6 linked regions of the Homo sapiens genome follow. The protein of the gene in region 6 purifies or fractionates together with the protein of the main gene of each other region. This does not show direct contact. Each region holds a gene or a part of one and is shown on either strand. Other genes may lie near its edges.

Region 1 (3,500 bases), on a different chromosome or scaffold from region 6:
AACCCCAAACCAGTTTTTTTTGTTTTTAAATTCTGGGCCAAAAGATAATTTTTAAAGGTAAATATTTATCTCATTCATAGGTCAACTCTGTACTCCTTGAGACGAGGAACTAGATCAGTTTTGCTTTGCATGGTATCTGGTGTGAGGAGGTACTGGGCAAATGAGTGATTTTTTTTTTTCTTTTTTTTTTTTTTGAGACAGAGTCTCACTCTGTCACCCAGGCTGGAGTGCAGTGGCGTGATCTCGGCTCACTGCAACCTCTGCCTCCCAGATTCAAGCGATTCTCCTGCCTCAGCCTCCTGAGTAGCTGGGACTATGGGCGCCCGCCACCATGCCCGGCTAATTTTTTTTCTTTTTTTTCTTTTTTTTTTTTTTTTTTTTGAGAAAGAGTCTCCCTCTGTTGCCCAGGCTGGAGGGCAGTGGCGTGATCTCGGCTCACTGCAACCTCCGTGTGCCAGGTTCAAGTGATTCTCCCGCCTCAACCTCCCGAGTAGCTGGGATTACAGGTGCACGCCACCATACCTGGCTAATTTTTTGTATTTTTAGTAGGGACGAGGTTTCACCATGTTGGTCAGGCTGATCTTGAACTCCTGACCTCATGATCCGCCCACCTTGGCCTCCCAAAGTACTGGGATTACAGGGGTGAGCCACTGTGCCCGGCCTTAATTTTTATATTTTTAGTAGAGACGGGGTTTCACCATATTGGCCAGGCTGGTCTTGAACTCCTGACCTTGTGATCCGCCTGCCTCGGCTTCCCAAAGTGCTGGGATTACAGGCGTGAGCCACCGCGCCCAGCCCAAATGAGGGATTTTGTGGGCCTTTCATTAGCCCTGGAATTGTTGGGAATGTGCATTGAAGGCATGACTGGTCTAATTTGGACCCTGAGAAGGCAGTCATGAGATGTACACGGTCTGTGTGTTACCTAGTCTTTATCCTCCAACTCCCAACCGACAGGCCAGATCTGCTGGATTGACAGAGATCAGTGGGCTGCATGGGAGGTTTCATAGCCAGATCACCCTCATACGTAAATGCCAAAGAACATAGTCATCACACCTATTTCTTCCTTTACCCAAAGAAGATACTTTATCCAAGGTTGCTAATGGCTTCCCCCTAACCCAGAAGAGTGGGTGGCTGAGGTTAACATCTGTCTTCTTCAGTGTCAGCCTTCCCGAGGTTCAGTATCAACCTCACCCTCTAAGTGTCCCTGTATGGTATCTCTTCATCTTTTCTTTACAGATTAGGAAGATGGGAGCGAGTTCTGAGCTAGCTTTTGTGGTTAAAGTCTGCTTCATCCATCTCCTTTTTCCTTTTGCTCCACCCTCAGTACAGTCTGGGCCAGGACTGTGACAAGGCATGGGGCTGGCTTTGTTTATGGCGCCATAGCTGGCCCCCCCCCTCAACTGGTACTGGTTTTCCTCTTCCTAACTCAGTGTACCTTATCAATGCTGCACTCCAGCCAGGGACTGGCCACACTGGGACTTGGTGCTTTGCCACTGCCTTCTGCTTTATTAGGACTCTGCATCCTGTATCTCTGCTTGGTTCCTAGTTCCTTTCAGCCACAGTGACCCTTCCCAAGGGAGTGTCCGCCTTCTATGGTGACTTTGGCAGACAGGCCTGAACTGTGAGGGGTATCTTTGGGCAGGCTGAAAGCACCTGAGGCACTTTCATGGAGGAAGCCTTGGAGAGAGGCATGGAAGATGGGTCATCTTGTCAGGTTTGTGCTAACAGCGATGGAGACAGGACCTCATTTCAGACTCCCGCTGCTGCAACTTCTCCTCCTCTTCGTTCCCCTCCTTTCTCTCCTCTTCCATTAGAACACTTGTCCTTCCAGAGTGAAATCTGCAGGGAAAATGTTTATTGAAATATAACCTCAAAAGCTGACAGATGAAGTCAATGCTCTTCACCCAGAGATGACGCCACAGGACTTTGGTCTCAGTGTGCTTGTGCTTTGGCAGGGGCCCTTTCAGCATGAGAGTGGGTAAGCCATCTATCTCGTGCCACACCGAGAGCCAGCGTCTAGAGTGTCAGTCAGTGAACAGGGGCCAAGAGCCAGGATGCCGGAACCAAACTGTCCCATTACCAGCAAGACTTCTCATTTAGGCCTCAGCCCCTTTGTATTGTGATTTACTGCTTCAGAGGATAGCCTTCATAGAGACCCAGGTCTCAGGTGAGTTTTCAGATTCTCTGGCTTGGGTGAGTTGTGTAACACTCTGAGTTTGTTTCTTCATCTGTGATGTAGGGATAAGAGTGTCTTCCCTGTAGGATTGTGGTGAGGCCCAGGTGTGTGGAATGTTCCTGGCACATGGTGAGTGCTTGGTCAGTGACATCTTCTAGATGACTAGCCCCATGATGATTATAATATTAAGAGCTCAGGGTACTGGCCAGTGTGGTGGCTCATGCCTGTAATCCCAGCACTTTGGGAGGCCGAGGCAGGCAGATCACTTGAGTTCAGGAGTTCAGGACCAGCCTGGCCAACGTGGTGAAACACCATCTCTACTAAAAAGACAAAAATTAGCCAGGTGAGGTTGTGAGCACCTGTAATCCCAGGTGAGGGATTATCTCCTGTAATCCTGGGAGGCTGAGGCAGGAGAATCGCTTGAACCCAGGAGGTGGAGGCTGCAGTGAGCCGAGATTGCACCACTGCACTCCAGCTTGGGTGACAGAGCGAGACTTTGTCTCAAAAACAAAACAAGGAAAAAAAAAAAAAAAGAGGGTACTGAGAAAGATCTGTTAGCTCATGTCTAGAAGGATTTTCTTCTACCCTTTTCTGCCCCAAACAATTAAGAGTCTGGCTTCTCAGCCAGTCGTGCATATAGGGTCCATCCTGATCAGTTAATGTGTCTGTTGGTATTAGAGCATTTGTAGCAATACTATTTGCTTATTTAACACTTTTTTCCAGCCACTCATTTAACAGTTTGAGTACCTGTTACGCCCAGTAACACCTGTGAATGCTGAGGCCGTTGCAGTTCTCCTGGCCTTTACATTCTGGTAGGGGAGGCAGATAAAACATGAAGAAACACATGATGTCATGTGCTTAGGGCACTAAGGAGGAAAATGGTGCCAGTGAGGGAATAGCCGCAGATGAGGCCCTGTGGCTGTGTGTGCACAGTCTGGGTGTACAGGGGATGTTTCTGACAAGGAGACATGTGAATGGATGCCACTGGCTGCTAGAGAAATGGCATGGTGTGTGTCATCATGTCACTCTGACTGTGTGACAAGCACAGACTGCGGTGGGCAAGCAGGGAGACCGGCTAGGGGCTGCCAGGGTCATCCAGGCAAGAGATGACAGGGGCTCAGGCCGGGACAGCAGCTGTGGAGATAAGAAGAGGCATGTGATTCTGGATTCACAAACTACTTTCTGAGCAACAGGAAGAATGGAGTTGCCAGATACTGAGATGGGGACAGATGTGGAAAGAGCAAGTGCTTTGGGGCAGGAGAAGTAATGTTTGGTTTTGGACATATTGAGGTGCCTGTTAAACATCCAGGTGGATAGGGGATAG
Region 2 (3,500 bases), on a different chromosome or scaffold from region 6:
AGTCTCAGCTACTCGGGAGGCTGGGTGGAGGATCCCTTGAGCTCAGGCGTGTGAGGCTACAATCAGCTATGACTGAACCACTGCACTCCAGCCTGGGTGACACAGCAAAACCTAGTCTCTAAAAAAACTAAATAAATAAAAAATAAAAACCACTAACTAAGAATATTTATATAAAAACATCACAATTGCTCAAAATATTTGCAACCCCTCTCTATCAGACCCATCCTCAGAGGTCCCCAACCCCCACCACCACCACTTAGTGCCCTCACTGTGGGGGGACGTACATTTCCCACCCCATTCGTTGTATGATTTGCTTTGGCCAAGAAGATGTGAGAGGAAGCGGTTCAGTCTACGATGGAGCAGAAGATTTTAAGAGCCAGTGCATGGTCCACCATTGTGTTTTCCTGCTGTGAGAGCAGAATATGTGAGATAATAGTTTCTCCTTCTAGTACGAAAACAGCATGGAGTACAGCCACTATCAACTCATATAACTCACAAAATATGTAAAAAAATAGACCTTTGTTGTAAGTCATAGATTTGGGGATTATTTGTTATCACAGCTTAACTCAGCAAAAGCTTACTAATCATTTTAACAATGTCATTGCTTGGAGGTAGGCAGCTGCAGTGCATTCAGAAAAGCACTGGCCCTGAAATCGGAAAACCTAAATTCCACTTCCATCTGGCTGCGCGACCCAGGTAACTCATGACCACATGACTCCCATTTCCACAGCTGGTGGTGTGGGTGATAGCATGTCCTCTACCACTTATTAGCTATGCAGCTCTGGCCAAGGAATTTAATCTGTCTGTGTCTTAATTTCTTCATCTGCAAAATCGGAATAAAACTATACACCTCACAGGGTTGTTCTGAAAATTCACAAGTTAAAACATATAAAGTTTGTAGAGGAGGGTCTGGCACATAGTAAACACTCAATACATGTTTATTATGTTATTGTCCTATTGCTATTACTATTGCACCTTTTTCATAGGTTTTAGAGGCCTAAAGGTGTTTGGGGAAGTGCTCTGTAAACTATAAAGTGCTCTGTAGATATATATGGTTATAAAGAACTTTCCACATCTCATTTGCAACCCTTTGGTAGTTATGAGGAACTCGGTAACAGCAGGGTTTTTGTCAGGTTTACTGTGGTATCCCAGGCCTTCAAATATGAGCTGGCACGTAGTAGGCATGTAATTATTTGTTGAATGAATGAAGGAAAATCGTGGTCTCCTTTGTAATCCACTCAATGCAGATGCTATTTTAAAATTACATTGTTACTGACTGAATCTCCGCCAGTTCCATAAATCAAAGCTTCATATACGCAAGCTTATTTCAGGTACTGAGTATATTTAACCATCTACTTAAATTACCCAACTTACTAGATCTATGTTAAACAAAAATACCACATGTCATCACTTTTCAGCAGAGATCAGAATAATTGGTACTACACATTAGAAGAATCACCTCAAATTAAAGAATGTACAATAATGCCTTTGATCACTGTACAATAGAGTACATGTCAACATTTTTTATACTCTGAATGATGAAAATGGTCTAAGAATTTCCATTTTTTTTCTTTGACAATAAGGCTAAGACTATTGATATACTTTTTTAGTGACACTTTATTTTTATTTAAAATTTTTTTTATTATACTGTAAGTTCTGGGATGTATGTGCAGAACGTGCAGGTTTGTTACACAGGTATGCGTGTGCCGTGGTGGTTTGCTGCACCCAGGCACTTTATATTTTAAAAGCAAATTTTAACTGAAATATAGTGAATAAAATAATGAAATGTATTTCATATATGCTTGCTTAAAAGCCTAAAGGCAATTATAAGTGATGTATTTCAGATCAACTTTCAAAACTGCATATTTGAAGTCCAAATTATCTGAAAATCCCCCATTAAATAAAGTTAAATAATATTTTCTATGTCACTGACAAACAGCAATGGCACTATTGTACTTCATGGCTTAGGAAACACAGAAGAGTTTGCGTGGGGAGCTTTGCAGGGAAAGGGTGAGGGTGCATTTGCTAGAGTTTGGGAAGTTATTTTTAAGACTTCTCACCAATGTTCACAGTTCTTTATTTTTCCCAATAAAATTTTGTTAAGTATTGAAAATAATTCTGCTTTTACTCATATCACAGAATTATAAAATCCTAGAATTAGGTATAATCTGAGAGGTTGCCTGAGCCATCCTTGGTCCAGTTGCTACTGCGATTTACTTATTTGTCATTTCAGTAAACACTGACTGAGCATCCACCCGCAGGTACTTGCCAGAGATATAACATGGACAGAAAACAAAGTCACTGGCCTGAAAAATCTTAAAATCTAGTAAATTAAAGCTGTCCTTGCCTAACAACACTTTGTGACTAGAAACTAACAGCGCAGCTTTGTGAAGCTGCTCGTTCCATTTTTGGATGGATGAGGTCAAGGGTTAAAGTGCTTCCTTCTAAGGCGGGTGAGTTCTGCCTTAGCCATGGCCCCTTTCAATGGTCTGAGGGCCACTCTATGGAACCATCATCTGTGTAATGCTTCCAGTAGATCACATCTCAAATAATCAGACATTTATCATGGCTCTCTCTCCAGTCTTCTCTTCGTAAGACAACCAACCCCCAGTTCCGACTGCGCTCTTCATAGGGTTTTTCTTCCAAACTCCTCACCATTCTGGTATCCACCTCTATATGTCAATTTCTTGCTGCAGCACCTCAGGACTGATCAGCACACAGAGAAACACATTGCCTTCCCTTTCCAAAATCACATCTAACTCGTTTCTCTTTGCTCATTAGATTCTAGCTCGACTCATATTTTTCTGTCCTTCAAAAACACCATTTCTGGTGTTCTTCGCATCTTTACATTTGCCCATCTCTGCGTCCTCCCACAGCTGCCCACACGGCTGGTTCCGTCTCATCCTGAGAGCTTCGATGTGGGCATCGCCTCCGCAGAGAGGCATCCCTCGTGATCCACCTCAATCAACTTCCCCTCCACTCCCAGTCACTACCTCATCTCTCGTTTTAGTCTCAGTTTAACAGCGATGATTATCGGAACTTATCTTCTTTGTTTAGTTATTTACTGGCGGCTTCCTCCCTAGAAAGTGAGTTCATCCCTGCACTGCTGTCGTCTGCAATAATGCAAGGCAAAGCGAAGGACGAGAGGGAGGGAACGCCCCCGCCCTGGAACCTACATGGCATGATTCATATCTCTCTATTTCTTATGAATACAGTCAAGACGGCACAAGCTTTTCTGGCAGACATAGCCCATTTGTTTAAGGTCAATAAAACCGTGTCTTTGTCACATACGGACGAGACACATTCTTACGTGATGGGATCGTGCTGCAGAATTTTAGAAGGAGGGCTGGTTTGCTGGATTCAAACTACTACTCCGGCTCTATTTTTAGTCTCTTATCCAACACCACCTCCTTCCTGTCAACAATGGCTTTGATACCCACACCATCTATATCCTAGAAAAGGAAGACATTTCTACCTCCTGTGCTCTTTCAGAGCGGGGC
Region 3 (3,500 bases), on a different chromosome or scaffold from region 6:
AAGGAAATGAGCAATTGTAGAGCAGGTGAAAACGCTGGCATGGGTAGGTTCACTAAGGTGGGTGAGCAAGAAAGGACAGTGGACACCCTGCCGTCCCCCCAGCACCCCGTGGCTCATTGCTGCAGTCAGCTGGAGGAGAGGTGGCAGAGGTTGCAGAGCCAGGTCATCTCGGAGCTGGATGCTTGTAAGGAATGCACGCAGGGGGTCCAGAGGGAGGTCTCCATGGTGGAGGGCAGGGTGTCTCATATGGAGAAAACTTGCAGCAAGCTGGACTCTATCTCAGGAAATCTTCAGAGGATCAAGGAGGGGCTCAACAAGCATGTCAGCAGCCTGTGGAACTGTGTCAGGCAGATGAACGGAACGCTCAGGTCGCATTCCAGAGACATTTCTGGCCTGAAGAATTCAGTCCAGCAGTTCTACAGCCACGTCTTCCAGATTTCTACTGATTTGCAAGATCTGGTCAAATTTCAGCCATCAGCAAGTAAGTTGAATATTACAATTCTATTTCTTGTATTTCTTTGCAGCACGCAACAACATTTTAAAAATAATTTTTTGTTCATTTTTGATATTGTTGAAACTTCATGAGGTAAAAATGTGACAGTATTATGCTAGATTTTGGACAGTTCACGGAATGAACTAAATGCCATCAGTCCTACCCAAATGTGGTTCATAGATTGGTGCCTGAATTATCTGGTGCTGAGTAGCAATAAGATAAATATATATTCTCAGTGTTAATATTTAGGAACTTCTAAAATAATTTGACAGACTGGTTGCAGTGGCTCATGCCTGTAATCCCAGCACTCTGGGAGTCAAAGGAGGGTGGATCACCTGAGGTCAGGCATTCGAGATCAACCTGGCCAACATGGCGAAAATCCGTCCCTACTAAAAATACAAAAATTAGCTGGGTGTGGTGGCACGCGCCTGTAGTCCCAGCTAGTCGGGAGGCTGAGGTGGGAGAATTGCTTGAACCTGGGAGGCAGAGGTTAAGGTGAGCCGAGATTGCATCACTGCACTCCAGCCTGGGCAACAGAGTGAGGCTCCATCTCAAATAAATAAACAAACAACATTGCAGTATTTAAGCACATGATCTACGTAATTTACAAAAATATCAGTTCACAACACATTGAAAATAAAAAAGGAAAACTGGTTCTTCCCACAGATGGATAGCCAAATATTATCTGTAGAATCAGGCTGGTGAGCTCAGAGTTGGGGTCAGATTTTTGGCATAACAGCTTGGGGCAGTGGGTGTTGTCCTCTCTTCTACCTAGGGAGTCTCCTACGTACCTCTCTTCAAGCATCACTTTTTATCTGTGTCGTTATCATCTTCAGGGCTTAGCTGATGGCAGATAGGATGCTGTCATATTTGTTTCCAGACACAGGACCGTGGATGAGAGCAGTTTAGGGACAGGAAGTATCTAAAGCTCCATAGTGCCTGCATCCAGGAAGCTCAGCAGTAGTGCTGAGAGCAATGCTGGCTACACCTTAGGCACTCAACAAATGTTTGTTGAATGAATGAATGTGAATGAATGAATAATATATGTAATAAGATTTTTTTGTTACTTGTGGGTGCTAAACGCAGCCTTCTCAAAGGACAGAGCTTCTCTTGTACCTGGGTTTGTACTCTGAGACAGCCTCCGACATAAGCTAGCCCTCTCTAGTCGGAGTCTGGGCGTGAAAGGAAGGAAGAGGGAGCTCGCGTTTTTGAACACTTTCTATGTACAGCACTGGCTTGGTCACTTCAGGGGGACTGAATCCTATCATGGCCTCACAGAAAGGCTGTTTTCCAACAGGGAAAATGTGCCCAAAGTCATGTGGCTGTTCAGTGGGGGAGCCAGGATGGAAACCAGGCCAGGCTGCGTCCAAGAATTGTTTTCTTGCAGTCCAGCCATGATGACTGTGTGTCTCCCAGAACTGAGTGCAGACTTACTTGGTCCATGGGGACTTGTTGAGGGGCCTGCTTTGTGCTAGAAGGAACCTATTCCTGACCTCCCCCTCCCTGTTTTCTTTTCTCCCATCCTTGCCTTTGGGACTTTTACCTCCCTGACCTGGTTCCGCTCTGGGTGACACAGGCCCTTGCACAAGGAACTGAGATTTCATGGCCTCTGTGAACCTTGGGATTTTATGATCAAGTCCCAGATGAGACATAAAACCCAAGGCAGCGTAGGCTAGAACGTGGGAAGCAGGCGAGCTCTGGCTTGGTCAGGGAGAGCCAGGGCCAGGTCCTGGCAGCTCAGGAGGGTGGAGAGGGTCCGAGGTAGGTGGGAAAATGCCCTGGATGTCCCCAGAGCACTGTGCTTATCTTGCAGATGACGAGTCACCTAGGCCCAGGAGGACCAGGAATCTGGCCGCCACCCGAGTGTCCAGCCCACTGCACCTCACTATTTATAACCCAGCCCTTCCCCCACTCCAGGGCCACTCAGCTCCTCTATCTCTGGAATGTTGAGTAGAGGTCACAAGACCATGTATGTGTTCATAGAATGATTGTCCCTTGTGGTGACAACGCTGTCTGGTCTGTGTCTTACGATAACAGGTTGAATCAGATATTTCCAGTTGATTTGGAACTCCCTGGTGGCGTGGGAAGCTGTGTTAACATTTTCGCATTTGTCTGTTGCAGTAGGAGTTGGGGGGTGAATTCTTTTAAAAGAGAATGTGCCATACAAAACATTATCCCTTTGGACTGAACTCATTGTGGTGAGTGTAGACTGCATGGAGTTTTGAGAATTTCATTGATTGGAAAAGAGCCAGAAATAAACAAGCAGAGCCTCCTCTGCCCTTGTCTAGCATCCAGGTCTAGGAGACCTGGAACCTGAGTATCAGAGGTGCATGGGAGAATCTGGAGCTAAGGTCACAATGAAAGTGACATGTCAATCAGTTAAAAGTCAACAGAATGTTTATTGAGTGCCTACGATGTGCAAGGCTCTTGGGGGACCTGGAGATAAGTAGGCATAATCCTTATTCTAAAGCATTTGCAATCACAGTGGGAAAGAGACTCACAGGTCTGCAGAGAGATGAATGAGATTGTTTGTGGCATAGCAGTTTATCCCTTTAGTTCATAAGCTCTTACTGAGCCCCTATTATGTGGTAGGTAATGGCTGTGTGGGGGAGTATGTGGATAAAAGTCTGATGGGGAAACAAGCAGACAGATGGTCACAGGAATGGGGTGTGGTGTGCATGAGCCACCTTGAGTGTTCAGAGAAGCACCCACAGTGGAAGTCAGGGAGGGATTCTCAGGAGAGAGCCCTGAGCTGAGCCCTCAGTGTAGGTATTTACCGAGCAGAGTACAGAGGCTGATGGGGTGAGGAATAAGGTGAGATGAGAGAAGCTTCCAGGAGGAGGTGTTACTGGATCTGATTGAGGGATGGGTGGGATTCAGAAAGCAGGAGGGGAGGACATTGTGGATTAGCTATTTATTGCTTTATAACAACCCATTCCAAATCTTGCTGGCTTAAAACAACAAAGATGTATTAGTTTCCATTATTCTGTAGGTCAGGAACCCCGGC
Region 4 (2,219 bases), on a different chromosome or scaffold from region 6:
AGGATGAAGTCAGTGGTTCCCCAGTCCAGTTAGCACAGGAACTACCCAGAGGGGTCAGAAGGGAGCCAACTGGGGTGAGAGAGTATCTGAGTTTCCTCTAAACACTGCTCAACTCAGCTCCCTCAGGGGTGGAAGCTGCTCTCATAAATAAAAAGTCCATCTTTGGTTGGCAAGGCCCCTATGTAGCTTGGAAACCAGAGCCCCAGCAGGTGGATGCCCTCCGACACTTAGTGCTGACTTGGAAGGAATTGCAGAGATGACAAAAATGTGATTCCATCACTCACTGCTGCCCTTGTGTGGTGAAGGAAGCATCCCTTTTCTTTTTGTCACATCACGCAAGATGGATGCTGTTCACATGTGAGAATTACTCCCAGGGGAGTTCCTGCCAGCTGTAACTCATCTTCTCCCACTCAAGAACGCATTAGGTTTTGCAAGCCCAAAGTTATGCAAGGCAGGGGCTCATTGTGAATCCATGGTAATTTATAAAATTACTAAGTCACTGCGAAGCCTCAATGTTTTATTAGTAACACATTATTTGTAACATAGTTCTCAACAAATTAAGTCACCACATTGTCTTCCAGACTGAGGTTAAAGCTCTCAGACATCTGTGCCTACCACCTAGACTACACTACCCTCTCAAGTTCCTAAGGGACTCTCTAACCAGCTCCTAAGGGACTGGGAGAAAACTGCAACTGCATTTCAGCACATTTATTTGAGTAAGGAAGCAGTTTGGTACTTCCTTTTGGTGTGAGAGGCCACAGGGCATAGTGGTTAGGAACAAGGCTGTGGATCAAACAGCGGCCCCAGGCCCAGCCCCTCTTCTCTGTTCCTTTATTAGCTAAGTGGCCCTGGGTAAGCCATATAATCTTTCAAACAATGGGATTAAGATTAGTACAATTACTGTTAACTCACAGAAATAATAGAGAAAGAAATGCAAAGTGCCTGGCTCACACCAAGTATTTGGTAACTACTAGTTACTTCCATTCATGTCACCTGTCACCTCCACCCTGTGGCAAGCTCCTTGAGGAGCTTTGTCTTGTTTTGTTTCCTTATGCTTAGCACAGTGCTTGGCACAGGATTGTTCTCAGTGTAGGTTGCTGAATGGATGAATGCTTCCACCTACTCATCCATCCACGTAACATGTATTGAGCAGCTAAGTGCCAGGTGCTGTTCCCTTTACTGCAGACGGAGCAGTGAACAAAACAGCAAGGTTCTGGTCTCTTGTTAACTATGTTCTAATGCGGGAGAACAGACAAGTGTGTACTGGGAAAGAGGGAGAGAAATAGAGTAACTAGAGCAGAACTGAGGGGGCCAGGAAGGCTGAGGCGGTGGGGTGGGGGGCTTGCTCTTTTATATATCACAGAAGGTCTCCCTGAGGAGGTAACATTTGAGCAGAGGCTTAAAGGAAGTCAGAGAGCAAACCACAGGAATATTGGCAGAAGGCATGCTTCAGGCCCAGGGAACAGCATGTGCAAAGGCCCAGAAGCAGGCACACGGACGGCATTTTTGAAGAAAAGAAGGCAGGTGTAGCTGGAATGATATGAGTGAAAGGCATATCTCTTTTTCTATTCTGGTCAAAATGAGCACACAACACAATTCAGAAATTGAAAAAGATGTATTAAAATATTCACAAAAATACAACTGAAGATCAAAAAATAATAATGAGCTTGATGGTTTTTCCCTAGCTGATATATTTCCATTGAAAAACTAGAGATAGTTTGAAATTTCAATCTCTAAGTAATGCCTTTTGAGTGCTCCCATACAGAATTAGCGCATAATTTTAAGACGACCCTGTTTGCCAGGACGAAGACATGGAGAGGGCAGATCTGCCCTTTAGGCAACCTTAGTTCGTTATCTGCAACCAGGAAAGGAGTGCTGAGGCACAGGGAAAAGGGGAGCCAAAAGGGCTGCAGGGGTGGGTGTGCAGGGCTTGGGAAGAGGTCCTGCCCTGAGAGGCTCATCTCAGTGTGAGCAGCTTCCTTCAGGGAAACCTGTCCTGGCAGAGCACCATGCTGGCAGCTGCCCTTGCCTGGGGGGAAGGTTGGTGAGAACTGGTGAGGATTCTCTGCCAGAATGCCAGGGCACTGACAGAGTTTGAGGTGTCTGGTTGGGCAGGAGGCCAAGAAGTCGGGCTGGGGAAGGGAGTGGTAAGGGAGGAACAGGCCTCCAGGTGTCATTCGAGTGAGTGGCCCCCACAGCACCAGCTTCACCAACACATG
Region 5 (3,500 bases), on a different chromosome or scaffold from region 6:
TGGAAAAGAGGCTGCCTCATTTTCACTGCTGAAGAAGGAGAAAGAGCTGGCTTTCCTTTCTTACTATTAATGTGTGTTCCTAACTTTCCAAGTTAAAATAAGTCAACAAATGCAGGTCAATTTCTATAACATCATAGTTCATTACACAATGGATTAGTCTTTTGTAAGCGATGTTAGAAGCATTATGTCCATTAATTACACTATCCTATGTCTAGGGAAAAAATATTTTTTTGTTCCAAGTAACTCACTGATAAGTGAACTTTCAAAATACAAACCTCTTGAGCAAGATAGGAATTCATTGCACTGGAAAGACATTATTTCTATTCTGTTATGTCTATTAGAATGATTAAATAACAGAAACTAGAAATCATGTGCTTTTAACACCAATTAACAATGCATCTTGTCAGTTAATAGGGTTGAAAAAAGAAAAAAAATGCATCCTGGTTTTACTTGAGTACAAAAAAAAGGCATCCTTGAAAACTAGAGCTTAAATCAAGAATAAAGCAAAAAAGAATAAACACTGACAGAGAGAAAAGATAAAACTAATTGTTTAAGACTCTTTGAAAAAGGCGTTAAGGCTGGGCGCGGTGGCTCACACCTGTAATCCCAGCACTTTGGGAGGCTGAGGTGGGCAGATCACATGAGGCCAGGAGTTCGAGATCAGCCTGGCCAACATGATGAAACCTCATCTCTACTAAAAAATACAAAAACTAACCAGGCATGGTGGGAGGCACCTATAGTTCCAGCTACTCGGGAGGCTGAGGCAGAAGAATCACTTGAACCCAGGAAGCGGTGAGCCGAGATCACACCACTGCACTCCAGCCTGGGCGACAGAGAAAGACTCCATCTCAAAAAATGAATAAATAAATAAATAAAATAAAATAAAATAAAATAAAATAAAATAAGAAGAAAAGGCGTTAAATAATAAAAAGTTGTGATTTGGGACTATTAAAATATTTAAGCATTCAAGGTTCCATCTTAAAGCAAAATATAGTACAATTATTTAGTGATTTTTACTAAAATTAAACTCATCATGTCTAAATTAAGGCATTTACTTTAAAGTTGATATCCACTCTATAGGTGGGATTTCCTTTCTGCTGTTAAGTCTTGGTGCAGAGCAAATTTTTCTGAGAAATGTGCTGTAGGCAACATACACTTTTATATATACTGTGTTGCTACACTTCTTTTCACCAGCAAGTAAGCTAAAGGGAATGGTTATTTAACCTAGTTCTGCTACTAACTAGCTAGATAACCCCAAGTAAATAATTTAACTGGGTATATGGGGGCTCAGTTTTCTCATGAAGTTGGAGGACATTATCTCTCAAGATTCTTCCTAAGATTTTGTGATTAGTAATTAAGATATTTCTAAATGATTCATACACATTTTACATAGCAGGTGCTCAATTTGTCCTTGTTACAAATTACATGTGGAAAGCTTGCACAACATTTTAAGGGTAGTATTTAATAAATATAGCTGAAGCAATAACTTGCATATTAAGAAATTAAAATTCTTACAGATCAGAAAGCCAGATGAGAAACTTTTGACTTCTGGACATGGTGTGTGGTTCTTTTAGCCTAGGGTAAAATAAAGTTTGAATTACAAATTAGAAACACAGAAATATATCAGTGTGATAAAATGAAACAAATTCAAAAATGAAAACAGTGCCTTGTACTTTGTATATTCTCAAAAAATATTTGTAAAAAGGACAAAAATAAAATAAAGGCCAGTTGGGTTCTGTTTGCACTGGTCTCAAGCTAACTTTTTGCCATCCCTATTCAAAAGTAATAAATAAATAAATAAATAAATAAATGCATACATAAATAAATAAATATTGTCTTTCCAGAGACCCTGGTGCCCTAGGCTCATATCTCGTTTCTTTTTTGGTGAAATCTTTCTCCTGCTTTGTCTCCTACAATTTAGTATGTGGCAAATTTAAACATACAACGGAACTGTATTATAGATCAAAGTGAGCAGTTTACCACGTGTTTTCCTTTCCTTTAAAATATCTGTAGGCCAGGCATGGTGGCTCATGTCTGTAATCCCAGCACTTTGGGAGGCTGAGGCTGGTGCATCACCTGAGTTCAGAAGTTCCAGACCAGCCTGGCCAACATAGTGAAACCCCCCCCCGTCTCTACTAAAAACATAAAAATTAGCCGGGCATGGTGGCGCACACCTGTAATCACAGCTACTCAGGAGCCGGAGACAGGAGAACTGCTTGAACCCAGGAGGCAGAGGTTGCAGTGAGCCAAGACTGCGCCACTGCACTCCAGCCTGGGTGACAAAGTAAAACTCTGTCTCAAAAAAAAAAAAAAGTACAAAATAAAGTACAAGTCCTTTTTTCCCTAACTCTGGCCCCAGTGGAAAGTCCTGGTTGCAATTTCAGGAATATTAGGGATTTAGTAGCTCAAATACTGATTACCTCATTAAACAATCACTATATTGTCTTAGAAAATATCCATTGTCTTCTATAGAAGTATTAAAACACACAAAATATATCCTGCTTGTGTCTTAATCCATAATCACTTTTTAGAGAAAATATTAATTCTGTGGAGTTTGTTCTTATGTCTGTATTTCAACAATATTTGCTTCTAAAAGGAACATATGAAGATAAATATAGAGCAAACAGTCCACTCCAGGCCAGAGGAAAGCTAAGTACTTTAGGAATAAATGTTTTATTTATTTATTTATTGGCAGAGTCTTGCTCTGTCACCCAGGCTGGAGTGCAATGGCGCTATCTCGGCTCACTGCAACCCCCACCTTCTGGGTTCAAGCGATTCTCCTGCCTCAGCCTCCTGAGTAGCTGGGATTACAGATGTGCGCCACCATGCCCAGCTAATTTTGTATTTTTAGTAGAGATGGGAGTTTCACCATGTTGGCCAGGCTGGTATGGAACTCCCGACCTCAGGTGATCCGCCTGCCTCTGCCTCCCAAAGTGCTGAGATTACAGGCAGGAGCCCCTGGCCCAGCCAGGAATAAATGTTTAGGGATCATTTTAATCTAGCAAATAAAATAGGGTGTTTTTTGGGGGGGGGGGTAGACAAGAAGCGTTTTCTATTGTTTTGTCTGAGAAACAGCTACAAAGATGTTCATAAATATAATTTAGGAATAAATAAAATAAACATGTTTATCACTAAGATACTGAAATTGGAAAACAGGCATGAAATAGAAGTTGAGCACAAGAGTACTGACTAAATTGTTTTTCTTTTCTTTTCTTTTTTGAGACAGAGTCTTGCTCTGTCGCCCAGGCTAGAGTGCAGCCATCTCGACTCACTGCAACCTCCACCTCTGGGGTTCAAGCGACTCTCTTGCCTCAGCCTCCCGAGTAACTGAGATTACAGGTGTCTGCCACTGTGCCCGGCTAATTTTTGTATTTTTAGTAGAGACGGGGTTTCACCATGTTGGCTAGGCTGGTGTTGAACTCCTGACTTTGTGATCCACCCGCCTCAGCCTCCCACAGTGCTGGGATTACAGGCATGAGCCACCACGCCCGGCCAATTGT
Region 6 (4,184 bases):
CTCTGTATACTTAATTACTTTATGCTCTACCGCAACAATAATGTATTGTATATGTTTTTGTGTGTGTGTGTGTTTTCTTAGTCTTAAATTCAAAATATAAGGTAGCCCACTGGCTCTAAGCTACAAGAATCCTTATGAGTTGGGCAGTTCTTTGACAACTTTTTTTCCCACCTGGCGAAACTATCAAGGAATGTCCTACCACCAAGCGTGAGAAATTTTTGGCATTCCTGAAATAAATTCTTCTTCTGAGCCAGCTCATGTGGGCATCATAATCTCCTTGAAGGCTTTTAAAAGATTTAGATCTGAGTCTGTCTCAGATTCTCGGGCTCAGAACCAGAATTTCTCCGTCTGAGGCTACTATCTTGCTCTGGAGGAGGGAGTGAGAACTGGATCACTGGTTAGCGTGGTAACTGTTTTGGACAATTGCATAGCCACAGCCAGGAACACAGAAGGCAGAGAGGCAGCCTTGATCTGCAAGAGCTCCAGGTAATCCCAACGGGGACCCTTGATGGACAAAGGCATTCTCCCAGGCTTGGTGATGAATGTGTTCCACTTACAGCCAGACGAGACACTCACTCAGGGCTCTGCAGCAGAGAAGTTAGAGCTACAGCTTTTTTGCTTTGTGTTTTTACTAAAACTTAATTTGTTGTTGCACTTGTTGGATGGGCATGTCCCATAGGGGAAGTTTCCACTACTGTGCTCTAAACTTTGGGCTGCTTGTACCATCTTACTTATCCCCTCATTAATAATGAATTGAATAAAATCTTTAGTATATGCTAATTTCATATCTTTGCGAGAGTTACGATTTTACCTTTTCTTTTTAAAATTACCTTTTCATATTTCTATCACTCCCTTACCAGAGCAGTGAGTTTCTGGGTCTCCCTCTTAGGGGCAGACACTGTTCCATGTAATTAGAATTAATTTCTTGTTCGTAGGTAGACAGAGAAAAGCTGCCAAACTCCCAGGAGACAGGGGTTCAGATCCTGTGCTATGGCTGAGAGTGATGCCGAGGAAGACACTTCCCTCCGAGTCTTAGTCTGCCCGCCTGTGAAACTGGCTCGTAACAAACCCCTGACCCCAGGCTCGGTCGCCTTGAGCCCAAGACCTCACCCAATGCCCCCCGCCCCGCCTTCCCTCCCGGGCTCCCAGGAGGTGCGGGGACTCGGGGGGCGGCCCCTTCCTCGGGAGGCGCCCAGGTGGCACGTCGGTGCCTCAGCTCCCGGGGTCTCTGGGCTCCGCGCTGCCCACGGGGTGCCGAGGGGCCTCTGGAGGGGGCGGGTTCTCTCGAGCCAGAAAGTCCGGAGCCGCCCAGGAATTTTGGCTCGAACTGAGTGCATTTCCTCTCGGGCCGGCCGGGTGCGATCCGGGAAGGGCGGCTGCGGGCAGACGCGGCGCTGCGCTCGGCCAGGCCGGCACCATGCGGCCCCTGCTCTGCGCGCTGACCGGACTGGCCCTGCTCCGCGCCGCGGGCTCTTTGGCCGGTGAGTGGGGCGCAGGGCGCGGCAGGGGACCTGGAGCCGGGGAGACCCGCAGATGGCGAGGAAGGAATGAGCGAGAGAGACGGAGAGAGAGCTGGACACAGCAGCGAGATGGACAGAGAGGCAGATGCAGGGAGGGAGGGATGGAGAGAAAGATTGAGAGGAAACAGACTCAGAAAAAGGCAGAGAAGTAGAGCAACGGAGAGATAAAGGAGATAGGGAAGAATACACAGTGAAAAGGAAAAAGGAGAGGCTGAGACAGAAAGAGGCTTCCCCTGAACAGATATGAACTAAGATAGAAAGAAAAAGGAGTTTGAGAGACAAAAGAGAAGAAGGAAAGAGAAAAAGTGATTAAAATGGCAAGGGGTGGAGGGAGAGAGGATATTGAAGAAAAGAGAAAGATTTGAGAGAGACCAAAAAGGAGAGAGAGGGAAGCTCGATGCCCGGAGTAGAGCTGGCAAGAGAGAAGGAGCCAGGATCTGGAGTGGGAGGTCACAGCTGCTGGGTGGGGCAGCCCCGGAGGCCAGCTCCATCTCAGAGGGCCTGTGGAGGCTCAGGCCTGGCTTTATAGGACATTGCATAAGAAGCCACACTCCAAAGGATGAGTGACCCAGGCTAGCCCAGCACAGCCTTAAGGAACCAGGCAGTCGGGCCCAGGAGAAAGGCCACCGATTCACCTGCCAGGTGGCCTCAGGTGGATCTGCAGTCAGTGAAGAAGTCAGCCTCCCGGTTTCCAGGGAGCTTCTCTGGGAAACTGAGCTATGTTGGGTGGAGATGGGGGACTGGGTGGAGGTGGAGAGCTGTGCGGAGGAGAGAGGCTGTCTGGGTACTCCATTAGCTGGGTTCCTTGCTTTTCACTGTCCGCTTTCTTCCCCTCACCTACCCCTCAGGCGGGCGGATCACAAGCTCAGGAGATCAAGACCAGCCTCGCTAACATGGTGAAATGCTGTCTCTATTAAAAATACAAAAAATTAATCGGGCGTGGTGGCACATGCCTGTAGTCCCAGCTACTCGGCAGGCTGAGGCAGGAGAATCACTTGAACCTGGGAGGCGGAGGTTGCAGTGAGCCGAGATCAAGCCACCGCAATCCAGCCTGGGTGACAGAGCAAGACTCAGTTTCAAAAAAAAAAAAAAAAGAAGAAGGAAAGGAGGAAAGTATTCATGTATTAGTGTAATTTCACACTGATTTCATATATTTTTGTGCATAATCTTTCAGATTTTAGATGATATATCTTAACTTTTGATTATGAAAACTTTTGGATACAAAAAAATACAAAGTAATAGTATGTGAAAGAATCATGTAATATACTTATCAACGCTGCTTCAAGAAGTATCAGTTCATGGGCAGTTTTATCTCATCTATAGCCTCCACCCTCTCTCCCCTCCCTGGATTATTTTAAAGGAAATCCAGGCATTGTATATTTTCTTTCTTTCTTTCTTTCTTTTTTTTTTTTTTTTGAGACAGGATTTCATTCTGTCACCCATGCTAGAATGCAGTGGCACAATCTCAGCTCACTGCAACCTCCGTCTCCCGGGTTCAACTGATTCTCCTGCCTCAGCCTCCTGAGTAGCTGGGACTACAGGCACGCACCACCACACCTGACTAATTTTGGTATTTTTAGTAGAGATAGGGTTTCACCATGTTGGCCAGGCTGGTCTCGAACTCCTGGGCTCAAGTGATCCACCTGCCTTGGCCTCCCAAAGTGCTGGGATTACAGGTGTGAGCCACAATGCCTGGCCTGGCATCATGTATTTTCATCTATAAATATTTCTTTGTGTACCTCTAAGAGATAAGCACTCTTAATAAACATAACTGCAATGCTATGATCATACTCCAAAAACTGTGTGTGATTGAATATCATTAAATATTCAATCACTGTTCAAATGTCCTTGATTGATTGTGTCATATCTTTTTGCAATTCATTTGTTTGATCCAAATAAGGTTACATACACTGCATTTGGTCAATATGTCTGTTAGATCTCTTTAAATATGTAAGTCTTCTCTCCCCTTTTTTTACTTAATTTTTTGTTTTTGTTGAAGAAACTAAGTTTGTCCTGTAAAGTTTTCCACATTTAGATTTTGCTAATTGCATCCCTTTTATGTCATTTAAATACCTCCACCCCTTATATTTTCTATAAATTGAGAGCTATCTCTAGCACGTCCAACTTCCAACCTTGGTTTGTTTGTTTGTTTATTTATTTATTTATTTATTTGAGATGGAGTCTCGCTCTGTCTCCCAGGCTGGAGTGCAGTGGTGCGATCTCCGCTCACTGCAAGCTCCGCCTCCCGGGTTCACACCATTCTCCTGCCTCAGCCTCCCAAGCAGCTGGGACTACGGACGGCTGCAACCATGCCCGGCTAAATTTTTTTTGTATTTTTAGTAGACATGAGGTTTCACTGTGTTAGCCAGGATGGTCTCGATCTCCTGACCTTGTGATTTGCCCGCCTCGGCCTCCCAAAGTGCTGGGATTACAGGTGTGAGCCACTGCGCCCGGCCTTTTTTTTTTTTTTTTTTTTTTGAGACAGAGTCTTGTTTTGTCATCCAGGCTGGAGTGCAGTGGTGCGATCTCAGCTCATCACAACCTCTGCCTCCTGGGTTCAAGCAATTCTCGTGCCTCAGTCTCCCAAGTAGCTGGGATTACAGGTGTGCACCACCACACCCAGCTAATTTTTGCATTTTTTAGTAGAGACGGGGGCTGCGGGGG

Evidence for each region.
Region 1: the proteins of PLAC9 (region 6) and ABHD12 purify together in Homo sapiens (affinity purification with mass spectrometry; one large-scale study listed by BioGRID and IntAct). This does not show direct contact.
Region 2: the proteins of PLAC9 (region 6) and TENM3 purify together in Homo sapiens (affinity purification with mass spectrometry; one large-scale study listed by BioGRID and IntAct). This does not show direct contact.
Region 3: the proteins of PLAC9 (region 6) and EMILIN2 purify together in Homo sapiens (affinity purification with mass spectrometry; one large-scale study listed by BioGRID and IntAct). This does not show direct contact.
Region 4: the proteins of PLAC9 (region 6) and MPZL1 purify together in Homo sapiens (affinity purification with mass spectrometry; one large-scale study listed by BioGRID and IntAct). This does not show direct contact.
Region 5: the proteins of PLAC9 (region 6) and GDPD1 purify together in Homo sapiens (affinity purification with mass spectrometry; one large-scale study listed by BioGRID and IntAct). This does not show direct contact.

Annotation. Positions count from the first base shown.
Region 1 is NC_000020.11:25,380,836-25,384,335, reverse strand, and holds part of ABHD12 (lysophosphatidylserine lipase ABHD12), read left to right. Parts: intron 1-3,500.
Region 2 is NC_000004.12:182,246,402-182,249,901, reverse strand, and holds part of TENM3 (teneurin-3), read right to left. Parts: intron 1-3,500.
Region 3 is NC_000018.10:2,892,006-2,895,505, forward strand, and holds part of EMILIN2 (EMILIN-2 precursor), read left to right. Parts: coding exon 1-481; intron 482-3,500. UniProt on the Homo sapiens protein: May be responsible for anchoring smooth muscle cells to elastic fibers, and may be involved not only in the formation of the elastic fiber, but also in the processes that regulate vessel assembly. Has cell adhesive capacity.
Region 4 is NC_000001.11:167,790,201-167,792,419, reverse strand, and holds the end of MPZL1 (myelin protein zero-like protein 1 isoform a precursor), read right to left. Parts: 3' UTR 501-2,219; downstream 1-500. UniProt on the Homo sapiens protein: Cell surface receptor, which is involved in signal transduction processes. Recruits PTPN11/SHP-2 to the cell membrane and is a putative substrate of PTPN11/SHP-2.
Region 5 is NC_000017.11:59,269,011-59,272,510, reverse strand, and holds part of GDPD1 (lysophospholipase D GDPD1), read right to left. Parts: intron 1,576-3,500; coding exon 1,516-1,575; intron 1-1,515. UniProt on the Homo sapiens protein: Hydrolyzes lysoglycerophospholipids to produce lysophosphatidic acid (LPA) and the corresponding amines. Shows a preference for 1-O-alkyl-sn-glycero-3-phosphocholine (lyso-PAF), lysophosphatidylethanolamine (lyso-PE) and lysophosphatidylcholine (lyso-PC).
Region 6 is NC_000010.11:80,131,346-80,135,529, forward strand, and holds the start of PLAC9 (placenta-specific protein 9 isoform 1 precursor), read left to right. Parts: upstream 1-1,384; 5' UTR 1,385-1,417; coding exon 1,418-1,481; intron 1,482-4,184.